Linked DNA regions of Homo sapiens: region 2 is linked to region 1. A link means that fine-mapping ties the variant in region 1 to the expression of a gene that starts in the linked region. Tissue or cell type: whole blood. Region 1 holds a variant in brackets; the other region holds the start of a gene. All regions are shown on one strand. Distances are from middle to middle.

What was found. PIP is the estimated chance that this variant, and not a neighbour inherited with it, causes the effect.
Region 2: it holds the start of F7, and the variant in region 1 is fine-mapped to the expression of F7 in whole blood (TOPMed, PIP 0.98).

The regions. Positions count from the first base shown.
Region 1 is chr13:113,186,203-113,188,958 of GRCh38, reverse strand. All of the region lies in intron 7 of PCID2 (PCI domain containing 2), which reads left to right. Among named protein-coding and RNA genes, the nearest start is that of PCID2, 21 kb to the left of the region's middle. RefSeq lists enhancers at 1,210-1,504, 679-1,878. The variant G/C (reference allele first, on the strand shown) is at 1,521.
Region 2 is chr13:113,104,208-113,106,835 of GRCh38, reverse strand. It overlaps F7 (coagulation factor VII), which reads right to left and starts at 1,045. Exons shown (of 8, transcript NM_019616.4): 1 at 931-1,045. The coding sequence starts at 994.

The DNA.
Region 1 (2,756 bases):
AAAACCACATCCAAACCATAGCAGTAGCCCAGCTTCTCTTTTCACTCATTGTGTTTGTTGCCAATAAACTCTGTAGCCTCAAAAGATGGGAACTTTTCCTTTTGGGTGTTGTGGATCCCATCCATGAAACCGAAAGTAAGTGTTGAGCAGAGCAAGCTGTATGTAAAGGCCAAGGAATGAAGAAGCAGGAGTGTGGCTCACAAATCAACTTCTCTACTCCTGAGGGGTGAGGGGATTGAAATAGAGGGTTTCTTGAATGAAGGGGTTGGACATTGAAAGCAAGGGGAAGAATATTCATGGCTTTTCTGGAAATGGACGGTGAACTTCTGGGAGCTGAAGCACTGCCATCTTTTTGTCCTTTTACGGCGTCTTCCCGTCATTGTCATGGTGATTGTCAGCCGCTGTGGCACTGGTGGGAGTGTCACGGAGCATGCAAATGAGGTTGTAATGAAGTTGGAGGCCCTGCAAAGGCCAGGTGGACTTCCACTTAGCATCCTGCTGGTCTTAGCTGGTTTAACCAAGAGGGGAGCCTCTGACCTCAGGCATCCTATTGCTGAAGATAGGCAGAGTTTGAGTTGTGCAACTGTTCAGCCAAGCCTACAAGATGTATAGTGCTGTGGGGGTAACATGGCCTCCCTACCCAGCCTCGCTTCAGAACTTTCGTACCAAGGCTGGACTGTAGAAAAGTCCTTCCTATGCCATGGCACTTTCCCACTGAGGCCTCCCATGGGTGCCGTTTCCTTTGCTGGAAGGTTCTCCTCGACTCCTGGCAGTCTATACTCATTTAAAGGTTTCCGCCTTCTCTAAAGCCTCTCACTGCTGGACTTCACGGTGGATCAGATTTCCCTTTTATAAACATTCATAGCAGACTGTACATTTCTTTCACTGCGTTTACCAAACGATTTGATGGCGAAGTGCGTCAGGGCGTGGGCCTTCTCCATCACTAGCGTTCCTTGCACCCCAGGAGCTCAATCCGTGTTTCCTAAATGAATACTTGACATTTCGCTTGATCGTATATTTTTGCACAGCAGTGATCTTCACGACCTTTGATTAGGCAGTGGCTTCTCAGATACGACAACAAAAGCATAAGCAACCAAAGGAAAAAATTAATTGGACTTCATCAAAATTAAAAACTTTAGACTTCAAAGGACATTCTCAAAAAAGTAAAAAACAACCATAACCTAGCAAATAATACATCTGATAAGGGCCTAATATCCAGAATATATAAAGAATTATTACAATTCAACAGTAAAAAGACAATCCAATTCAAATTCTTTAAAATGTTTAAAGAATTTGAAAAATCTTCCAAACAAAATACGCAAGTGACCAGTAAGTGCATGAAAAGATGCTCAAGGTCATTAATCACCAGTGACTTAGTCACCAATGACTAATGCATCAGTCACTTGAAATGCACATCAGAACCTCTGAGAGCTGCCAGGCCACACCCAGTGGGATGACTGTAATCAGAAAGACGGGCGGCGCCAGTGAGGATGCAGGGAGACTGGAGCCTCGTACACATC[G/C]CCAGGGGAACAAAAACAGTGCAGCTGCTGTGCGGAAATGGGAAGGCAGTTCCTGAAAGTGGGACGTAGAGCTACCATGTGACCCAGCATTTCCACCCTGAGGGGACACTCAGAAGACAGGGCAGATCCCCAGTGACATCTCTTTCCCGTTGGGGTTTGCTTTTGTCACAGTCTCCAATAGAGGTCATCATTCCTGGTGCCAGACCAGCTACGATATTACCATGCGTGTAGCGTTTTACGTGAGTTACGGAGTACTTGTGTGTTTTGTTTGGTTTTTCCATAGCTCTTTGAAGTCATAGAACAGTATTATTATTTGTCTCCGTTTTCAGATGAGGAAAACGAGACCTTGAGAGACTTTTGTTTGAGGTCATGCACGTAGGGAATGATAAAAGTCATAGACCTGCTTAGAGCAGCTCACAGGCAGTTATAAAACAGGGTTTGATATTTTAAAATTGTATTTTTACATTATTTTAAGTGTTTCTATATGGACACATTTTGGTCTTTAAGAGTAATTTTATGTTCTGTGGCTTGTAAACCACCTGCTTGTTTTCTGTACTGGGCACTTTTGTATTTTTGTGCCTTGACTTTGAGTGATTTTATCATTTTGTTAACACCACAGAGTGTACTTCGTAAACCGAGATGGCGTGGCCTGCTACACACCCCCGCTGTGTGGCGCAGCCTGTGGGTCCTAGGCTGCGAGGAGCAAGAGCTGCACTAAATGCTGTAGGCAGCTGGAACACAGTGGGAATTATTTGTGTGTCTAAACAGATCTAAACACAGAAAAGATGCAGTAAAAATACAGTGTGAGACTCCGTAGGGCCCCATCTCACATGTGGTCAAGTGTGAGACTCCGTAGGGCCCCATCTCACATGTGGTCAAGTGTGAGACTCCGTAGGGCCCCATCTCACATGTGGTCAAGTGTGAGACTCCGTAGGGCCCCATCTCACATGTGGTCAAGTGTGAGACTCTGTAGGGCCCCATCTCACATGTGGTCATCTGTAGTTGACCGAAATGTTGTGTAACATGTGACTGTTTCCAGGTTAATTGCAGACAGTGGCACACCCTCCCCTAGGTTCTTCAGTTTCTGTTTTTTCAGTCTTTTGAGGTAAAATTTGCATGCAGTGAACTACCTACAGTATTATCTGTCTGCTTGCTGCTGAGGTATAGGACATGATTGCCACCCCAGAAACTTCCCTCATCCCTCATGTGGGGCAGGCCCTTTCAGCTGTCTGGATT
Region 2 (2,628 bases), 82 kb after region 1:
GAAGGTGGCCGGGGTCATAAGGCCATGCTGTGAGCTAGGGCTGCAGCCCCACATCCCAGGCACTGTCCCTCACAGCCCACCCCCCACTCGCCATCCCCACACGCCATCCCCACGCCCCACTAGCCATCCTCACGCCACACCCCCTACTCGCCATCCCCATGCCCCACTCACCATTCCCAGGCCCCAGCCCCACTCGCCATCCCCACCCCCCCATGCCCCATCCTCTGCACCCCACACGCCCTTTCCATGCCCCATCCCCCACACCCCACATGCCCCATCCCCGACACCCCACACACCCCATCCCCCACACCTCCATGCCCCATCCCCTGCACCCCACACGCCCTTTCCATGCCCCATCCCCCACACCCCACACACTTTCCCACACCTCACCCCCACACCCCATGCCCCACATGCTGTTTCCCAGGCCCCACCCCCCCACGGCCCATCCCCCACACCCCACACGCCATCCCCACCCCCGATCCTCCACACCCCATCCCCTACGCCCCACATGCCGTTTCCCACACCCCATCCCCCATGCCCCAGGCGCCATCCCCCACGCACCGTCCCCTACCTGTGCTCCCCAGCCTGGGAGCACCCTGTGCGCACTTCCTGCACTCTGAGAGGCCCCAGACTCCCTGCGCTTGTCCGACCTCACAGGCAGGGGCCCATGGGGGCCAGGAAAGCACCACCCACTCCTAAAGTTCTTTGAAAAATAATCCCGCCAAAGCCTGGGCCACCAAGAAGGGCCTCCCCTCCTGTGCCTGGATGCTGGTTTCTAGAAGGAAAGAAATTGAACAGGAGCCGCCAGAAAACCCTCCTGGTGGATGGGGGTGTCCGGAGCAAGGGCGGGGTTTGGGAAGCCCGGGCTGGCTCCTGGATTTGCCCACTGCCCTTCCACCAAGTTTATGGAGAAAACCTCCCCGGACGCACCTGCAGCCAGGCAGCCCTGAAGCCCAAGCAGAAGGCAGAGGAGCCTGAGGGCCTGGGAGACCATGATGAAATCTCTGCAGTGCTGCCCCTGCCTGTTGACATTCCCCATGGGACTGACGGGCAAAGTTCTCTGCCTCCAAGGGTGACAGAGGGATGGGGGAGGGGAGGACACAGGCGTCCTCTGAACACCCCAGCTGAGAGCTGCACCTGGCCGGCCAGTGGCCATGCATCCCCTGCTGCCCAGCCACTGAGCTCAAGTGGGGGGGACAGGAGAAAGGTCAGGTGACCCCAGCTGTGCTGCAGAGCGGACGGTTTTGTTGCCAGCGTGCAGGTGTTAAGGTGTGTGTGGCACCAACACTTCAAATACGATCTAGAATTCCAAACCCCTAATGTAAGTTGGGAAACAGATTTAAACTGCAGATGAAAACTTGTCCCATAGCAATCATGCGAGTCAAATCTCAAGACTGTATCTTGGGTGTGGATGTAAATATTTGAAGAGAGCCTCCAGACCAGGCCAGCTAGGCCGTTGCCTGCAAGGGAGGCTGGTTTCTTAGGTGAGCCACAGAGCCTCACTGAGAAGTGCCGGGAATAGGATCATTCTGGCCCTGAGCTGGGCACCCCCACTCCGTTTTGACTGCAGGCAGCACCCCCATTCTCCAGCGGTCCACATCTTACGTCTTTTTGTTTGTTTTGTTTTGTTTGTTTGAGACAGAGTCTTGCTCTGTTGCCAGGCTGGAGAGTGCACTGGTGCAATCTCACTGCAACCTCCACCTCCCGGGTTCAAGTGATTCTTGTGCCTCAGCCTCCTGAGTAGCTGGGACCACAGGTGCACGTCACCATGCCTGGCTAATTTATATATATATATTTTTTTTTTTTAGCAGAGATGGGGTTTCACCGTGTTGACCAGGCTGGTTTCGAACTCCTGACCTCAAGTGATCCACATGCCTCAGCCTCCCAAAGTGCTGGGATTACAGGCGTGAGCCACTGTGCCCGGCTGGCGGCAGTCCACGTCATTTCTACCTGCTGTCATGGGCCCAAGCCACAAGCTGTGGTGACTAACCACCCCAGGTTGCCCAGGGACTGAGGGTTCTCAGAATGTGGAACTTTCCATCCCAAAAACACTGGGGTAGACGGTCATCCAAGCCTCCTGGGTTGCCCAGCAGGCCTGTCTGACCCCTCAAGCAGGGAGTATCCTCCATGTGAACAGTTGCATTGCTGATGACTTCTTTGGAAGCTGATGTCCAGTTCTTTTTACGGCTGGAGGGAGGGAGGTGATTCCTTCCCAACAGCCAAGTCTTAGCTCAGGGGTGCCTTTCAAAGCAGCCCCCAGCACCCCCAAAGCCTCCCTGCTTGCTGCTGACCTGCATCTCAGTCCAGAGAGCAGAGCACTTGCTGAGGGGCCGACAGGGCATGTTTTCTCTTCCACCCAGCACAGCTGAAGCCCATCTGTGCCCCTCCATGATATCGATCCCAGGGAGATCGCTTACAAAGTAGCTGCTCCGTCTGGAATAAAGCTCACGTCCAGCTCAAATCTGGTCCCCGCGGCTCTCGGCCAGCACAGCCCAAGGTAATTTCAGGACGTGGAGGGGAGGGGGCCATATCTAAACCCTACCCCTTTCCCACCTGAGAGTAGATGGCTGGCTGGTCTTAGGGTACCCTTCCCCTTTGGGGCTCCAGGTCAGAGGTCCTCAACCCTCT